Linked DNA regions of Homo sapiens. The protein of the gene in region 2 purifies or fractionates together with the protein of the main gene of each other region. This does not show direct contact. Each region holds a gene or a part of one and is shown on either strand. Other genes may lie near its edges.

Region 1 (3,818 bases), on a different chromosome or scaffold from region 2:
TGCTTCCTCCACCAGTACCCCCATCCTCAGCCAGAAAGTCTGTTAGGGAGATAGTCTTCCCCTTCTTATTCTTCTTTTTTGCTGTTTTAAAAGGCAAGAGAAAGATTATTCACCAATACTCAGGTATTTACAGAGTTGTACAATGCAATATTGTAAAACATTATTTAGAAAGAAATAACATGGACGCTCCTCAAATGGTTAAATTATGGCATTTCCATGAAGGGGTACTATGCAGACATAAATAAGAAATTTAAAAGTTGCAGAATACCTATTATGTGTAAACACATGTTTACGTACGGAAAAGGGTCTGAGTGTTTGAGATACACCCTGGAGAGTATGTTTGGAGTGTGGGGGCAACCTTTTATTTTCTACTATATTCACTTATCATTTGAGATCTTTAATTTTGTAACTACTTCTATTCAGTTACTACTTTCACTGCTCTTTGGATAAAAAAGATCAATAAAAATTCGTATCTCACATAACATATTCAGTATGGCAGTTTTGAAGACTGTTTTGACACTTGTAAACAAACCATATAGGGAAGGAATCACAACTGTCTTTTTTTTTTTTTTTTTGAGACAGAGTCTTGCTCTTGTTGTCCAGGCTGGAGTGCAATGGTGCCATCTCGGCTCACTGCAACCCCTGCCTCCTGGGTTCAAGCAATTCTCCTGCCTCAGCCTCCCGAATACTTGGGATTACAGGCACCCGCCACCATGCCCAGCTAATTTTTTGTGTTTTTAGTAGAGACGGGGTTTCACCATGTTGGCCAGGCTGGTCTTGAACTCCTAACCTCAGGTGATCCTCCTGCCTCGGCCTCCGAAAGTGCTGGGATTACGGTGTGAACCGCCACACCCGGCCCCATTTTTTTTTTTTGAGACAGGGTCTTGCTCTGTTGTCCAGGCTGTAGTGCAGTGGTGTGGCCACGGCTATCTGAAGCCTCAACCCTCCCATGCTCATGTGATCCTCCCACAGCCTCCTCAATAGCTGGGACCACAGAGGCACACTACCACGCCCAGCTGATTTTTAAAAAGTTTTTTAATTCCCTATGTTGCCCAGGCTGGTCTCAAGTATCCTGGAGGATCCCAGGCTCAAGTGATCCTCCTGCCTCAGCCTCCCAAAATGCTGGGATTACAGGTATGAGCCATGGTGCCTGGCCACAACTATCAATTTACAGAAAAGGAAACTAAGTCTCAGAGAGGTTAAGTGAAACACCAGATGTCTGTAAAGTTACAGAGACATTAGATGGCTAGGCTGAAGATAAAACCTAAGTTTTTTTCATACGAAGTCTAAGGCTCTTTCTATATACCAAGGTATCCTTGCATCTCAGCAGCTTATTCTATGTCAGGTTATCAAAACCACAGTAAAACGTACTGCTATTTGAAAGTGTTCAAATGTTAACAGTCATATTCCCTAGATCTCTCTGCCCTCTAGAAAAAATGTCCTCCTCTACTATAACAACACTGCATATGAGGATGTAATGCTAAAAGGAAAACACACGAAAACCCTAATAACCAACACATTTAAGTGTTTCCCACAGTTATGGAATATTTAGTAATCTCCAAATGGCTCAACTTAGTGAACTGACACTGCTCTTTCTTTGTGGTCCTCAGAACTTCCGAGAAGTCACCACCAATCAAGAGCTGATTCAGAAGAGCAGAGGGACTCAGTGAAGTTCCAGAACTGGCCTGATAGCAGCCACTACATGATTAAGAAAAAAACAAGCAGCTTTGTTGTAAAAAAGATTGGCTTCATGGTTTTTATAATCATGAATTTCTCCTCCATGTTCCAATTGTCACCTGATTTTTAATCCAAGAATATCAAACTTGATGTACCCCTTTGTTTAACTGAAGGTTGCTTTCTCACTTGGTATCCCTTTCTTTCAAAATTTAACTTTCAGGAAATAAAGGTAACCAGTTTGCTATGAATGTTAACACATAGCCTTCTGGACACAATTAGAACCTGAAGTATTACGGTCTCAATGTGCAAACCAGATGAACCCGGCTAAAATAATCAAAGTTGACCACGAACATGGTATTTTCTGTATCTCTCAAGTGACTTAATATTAATCCAGCTCCAAAAGTATTGTTTATGATCAACCAGATCACATTTTGAATCCATCCTACGCTTTTTTTTTTTTTTTTGAGACGGAGTCTCGCTTTGTCATACAGGCTGGAGTGCAGTGGCGCGATCTCAGTTCACTGCAACCTCCGCCTCCCAGGTTCAAGCAATTTCTCCTGCCTCAGCCTCCCAAGTGGCTGGGACTACAGGCGCGTGCCACCACGCCAGGCTAATTTTTTTTTTTTTTTTAGTTTCACAGTGTTAGCCAGGATGGTCTTGATCTCCTGACCTCGTGATTAGCCTCCCAAAGTGCTGGGATTACAGACGTGAGCCAACGCGCCCGGCCTGCTTTTTCTTTTTTCTTTTTTTGCAGTGGTGCAATCGTGGCTCACTGCAGCTTTGACCTTTTGGGCTCAAGCAATTCTCCCACTGTAGCCTCTTGAGTAGCTGGGACTATAGGCATGCACCACCATGCCCAGCTAATTTTAAAATTTTTTGTAGAGGCAGGGGTCTTGCTACACTGCCCAGATTGGTCTTCAACTCCTGGCCTCAAGTGGTCCACCCGTCTCAGCCTTCCAAAGTGCTGGGATTAGATGTGAGCCACTGCACTTGGCCTTATTCCACAGCTTTCAAAGAATACGGTTACAGAGAGGTTGGGTCTCATAGCACTTTTATTGCTGCAGCTCATATGCAAAGGTTTTTTTTTTTTTTTAGAGGGAGTCTCACTCTTGTCCAGGCTGGAGTGCAGTGGCGCCATCTTGGCTCACTATAACCTCTGCCTCCCAGGTTCAAGTGATTCTCCTGCCTCAGCCTCCTGAGTAACTGGGATTACAGGCATGTGCCACCAAGCCTGGCTAATTTTTGTATTTTTAGTAGAGATGGGGTTTCACCATGTTGGCCAGGCTGGTCTCAAACTCCTGACCCCAAATGATCCACCCACCTCGGCCTCCCAAAATGCTGCGATTACAGGCATGAGCCACTGTGCCCAGCCTCATATGCAAAGATCTATGGGAGATTTTAATAAGCGAACACGAGTAAGACATGAGGTAAACCACTTACAGTGCGTGGGCTTATTTTAGACTTTTTCATATCATTTAATTCAAAAATAGTGTCTGGGATTAATATGATGCTAGCTACAGATCCTTACCCTCATGGGGCTTAATCTAGTACCATCAGCTAATATCCAATTATTAACCTGTCCTTCCACTGGGAGGATAAAAACAGAACTGGTGGTCAGTACAATAAGGTCAAGTTCAACAAAAGAACATTAACAATCTGAATAAGGTATCCCTTTCCTCTTTGTTCTATATACGTATCTTCTACCAAAACAGCAGAATGTGGAATTAATCTGCCCTTTAGTCCGATTTGGCTTAAATCAACTTTGTAGATCACAGTTTCTCAACTCTCACCCCTTGACTCCTTTGACAAACAAGTTTCTTCTTTAACGTTATTTGAAATTTCCAAACAAATTAAATATCATGACTAAAAAATATTAAAAGCACTTTTAAATCTTAGAATGTCTTTTCAAATCACAAGTCTCCCCCTCCTCTGATTGCCACCCACTCCCAGGCCCTCTGGTTAAGAAATTACTGTTGGGTGTGGTGGCTCACGCCTGTAATCCCAGCACTTTGGGAGGCCGAGGCGGGTGGATCACGAGGTCAGGAGATCGAGACCATCCTGGCTAACATGGTGAAACCCCGTCTCTACTAAAAATACAAAAAAATTAGCCGGGCATGGTGGCGGGCACCTGTGGTCCTAGC
Region 2 (3,818 bases):
TTATATGACTAGAGCATGTTTCTCTTTAAGGATTATTTTAAAGGACATCTAATCACCTCCCACAAGGTGTCTCCCCAAACACGTGAGGATTACAGTCTGGATTACAATTCAAGATGAGATTGAGGATTACAATCTGGATTACAATTCAAGATGAGATTATGGGTGGGGTCACAGCCAAACCATATCAGTGGCACACACCTGTAGTCAGTCCCAGCTATTCAGGAGGCTGAGGCAAGAAGTTCGCTTCAGCATGGGAGGTCTAGGCTGCAGTGAGCCATGATCGCACCACTGCACTACAGCCTGGGTGACAGAGCAAGACCCGTTTCAAAAATAAAAAAAAAAAGAAATATTATATACAAACAACTCCTGGAGGAAGGTGATACAACAATTAAACTTGGGCTACAAAGTCCTGTTACCTGGAAAGCTACACTTTCGCTGGCAAAACTGCCCAGTTGCTAACCCCCTGGGTCATAACCCCACCTAAAGGTCTCTCTATAAGAAGCCCTGCCCAAGTGGCCATATAAAATCATCTCTGTGGCTGGGCATGGTGGCTCATGCCTGTAATCCCAGCACTTTGGGAGGCTGAGGCGGTTGAATCACCTGAAGTCAGGAGTTCAGGACCAGCCTGGCCAACATGGTGAAACCCCGTCTCTACTAAAAATACAAAAAAATTAGCCGGGCATGGTGGTGGGTGCCTGTAATCCCAGCTACTCGGGAGGCTGAGGCATGAGAATCACGTGAAAGGCGGGGGTTGCAGTGAGCCAAGATCGCACCACTACACTCCAACCGTGCACCACAGCGAGACCCCATCTCAAAAAAAATAATAATAATAATAATAAAATCATCTCTGCCCCAAAGCTATTTCCTCAGATGCAAACATTTTCCTTGACCATAGCCAATTAACCTCTCAACATCTAATCCACCTCCCTTTGGAACTGGCTGATACCTTGAGAAACCTTTCTTCTCCACAGAGGGTCTGCCAGTTCAGATGCTGAAAAGTTTTTCTATCTGGAGAAACCCATAAGCCATACTATTAGACCTATGCCCCAAAGAGCTAAGCTAAGTTAAACACACAGTGTTTACAAATGAGCAGCTGAAAAGGCACACAAGCTTAAGTTGCAGAAGACACACACTTGATTTTCCTTGCTATGGAGGGCCCTTTAGAACATTCCCTACAAAGTTATTTTAGAATGTGAAGAGACAGCTGGGAGCGGTGGCTTGAGCCTCTAATCCCAGTACTTTGGGAGGCCAAGGCGGGCAGATTGCTTGAGCCCAGGAGTTTGAGACTAGCCTGGGCAACATAGTGAAGCCCTGGTCTCTACAAAAAATAGAAAAAAAATTAGCCGGGTTTGGTGGCATGCGCCTAGACCCAGCTACTGGGAGGCTAAGGTGGGAGGGATGGCTTGAGCCTGGGAGGCAGGGGTTGCATTGAGCTATGATCGTGTCACCACTGCACTCCAGCCTGGGCTACAGAGCCAGACCCTGTCTCAAAAAAAAAAGAATGTGAAGAGACAGAGAACTGAATGCAAAGACCCTAACTCAATAAAACTTTGTTTTCTTCACATGCAAAACAATCAGAAATGCTCTTTGTTTTGTAATCTGGCCACCAGCCACTAGGCCCATATAGGGGTGGAGGAGCCTAGACCTGCTAATCTCGGCGCATGTGAGTGGGGTTATTGCTGTCCTCTCAACAAGAACCCAGTTTTGAGAGACAGGACTTGCTGGATTTCCTAGGCTGACTAAGAATTCCTAAGCCTAGCTGGGGAAGGTGACTACACCTACCTTTAAATACAGGGCTTATAACTCAGCTCACACCCAACCAATCAGGTAGTAAAGAGGGCTCACTGAAATACAAATTAGGCTAAAAGCAGGAGGTAAAGAAATAGTCAAATCATATATCGCCCGAGAGCACAGGGGGAGGGAAAATGATCGGGATATAAATCCAGGCATTCGAGCCGGGAGGGGCAACCTCGTCTGGGTCCCTCCCATTGTATGGGAGCTCTGTTTTCACTCTATTAAATCTTGCAACTGCACACTCTTCTGGTCTGTGTTTGTTACGGCTCGAGCTGAGCTTTCGCTCACCGTCCACCACTGCTGTTTGCCACCGTTGCAGACCCATCGCTGACTTCCACCCCTCCAGATATGGCAGGGTGTCCGCTGCGTTTCTGATATAGCAAGGCGCCCATTGCCGCTCCCAATCGGGCTAAAGGCTCGCCATTGTTCCTGCATGGCTAAGTGCCCGGGTTCGTCCTAATCCAGCTGAACACTAGTTGCTGGGTTCCACGGTTCTCTTCCATGACCCACGGCTTCTAATAGAGCTATAACACTCACCATGTGGCCCAAGGTTCCATTCCTTGGAATCCGTGAGGCCAAGAACCCCAGGTCAGAGAACAAAAGGCTTGCTGCCATCTTGGGAGCGGCCCACCACTATCTTGGGAGCTCTGAGAACAAAGACCTGTCCGTTAACAGTTTCCCTATACTGATCCAGCTCCTGGAGTATCTGCTCCCTGACATGTCTCTATGTCCAGTCCCCTTGTCAAGATGCATGTAGATGCATTAGACACAACAGATGTCTTTTGATTCTCCATCAAAATCAATAAAACATAAAACATTTGGATAACATAAAAATTGCAGGTGACCTGAATGCCAGTATTGAAAACAGGTCCATTTAAAGCCCAAGTCATGGCAGAGTAGGCTAGGAGGATTCCTTCCTTTTGGCTTCACTTTCAGGGATGGTCATTTTAATTAAGGTGGGGATCATTTTAAAATCACATATAAACACAAACAATATTATTAAATAGTGATTTCTGACATAAATTAGGGAAAAATGTGGTTCACATTTCAGTCAAACAATATTTAATAATTAGCTTTTCCCTGCTTAGCGCCATTTATAAGACAGGCATTTAAGAGTCAAAAAAACAAACAATGTTGCTTTACTCTTAATAGCCAAAAACTGGAAACAACCCCAGCACTTTGGGAGGCCGAGGCGGTTGGATCACCTGAAGTCAGGAGTTTGAGACCAGCCTGGCCAACATGGTGAAACCCATCTCTACTAAAAATACAAAAATTAGCCAGGCATGGTGGCAGGCACCTGTAATCCCATCTACTCTGGAGGCAAAGGCAGGAGAATCATGTGAACCAGGGAGGCGGAAGTTGCAGTGAGCCGAGATCATGCCACAGCACTCCAGCCTGGATGACAGAGTGAGACTCCATCTCAAAAAAAAAAAAAAAAACAAAACAAAAGTTTAGGCCAGGCACGGTGGCTCACACCTGTAATCCTAGCACTTTGGGAGGCCGAGGTGGGCAGATCACTTGAGGTCAGGAGTTCGAGATTAGCCCTGCCATCATGGTGGAACACCATCTCTACTAAAAATACAAAAATTAGCCAGGTGTGGTGACGGGTTCCTGTAATCCTAGCTACTTAGGAGGCTGAGGCAGGAAAATCGCTTGAACTCAGGAGATGGAGGTTGCAGTGAGCCAAGATCAAGCCACTGCACTCCAGCCTGGATGAAAAAGCAAGACTCTGACTCAAAACAAACAAACAAACAAAAAAACCCACCAATCTGTGATATATTCATACAAAGGACTCAATAATAGAAAAGAACAAACTACTACATGTATGAATTTATACATGTATGAATCTCAAAAACATGCTGAGGAAAAGCCAGGCATAAAAGAGTAGCAACAGTGTGATTTCACTTATATCAAGTTCTAAAATAGGCAAAACTAACATATGGTGGAAAACATCAAGACAGTGGTTGCCTCTGGAGGTGGAAAATGCCTGGGAAAGGGCGTGAGGGCACTTTCTGGGGTGATAA

The links.
Region 1: the proteins of ERCC6L (region 2) and EIF4B purify together in Homo sapiens (affinity purification with mass spectrometry; one large-scale study listed by BioGRID and IntAct). This does not show direct contact.

The regions. Positions count from the first base shown.
Region 1 is NC_000012.12:53,012,736-53,016,553, reverse strand, and holds part of EIF4B (eukaryotic translation initiation factor 4B), read right to left. Parts: intron 82-3,818; coding exon 1-81. UniProt on the Homo sapiens protein: Required for the binding of mRNA to ribosomes. Functions in close association with EIF4-F and EIF4-A. Binds near the 5'-terminal cap of mRNA in presence of EIF-4F and ATP.
Region 2 is NC_000023.11:72,211,457-72,215,274, forward strand, and holds part of ERCC6L (DNA excision repair protein ERCC-6-like), read right to left. Parts: intron 1-3,818. UniProt on the Homo sapiens protein: DNA helicase that acts as a tension sensor that associates with catenated DNA which is stretched under tension until it is resolved during anaphase. Functions as ATP-dependent DNA translocase. Can promote Holliday junction branch migration (in vitro).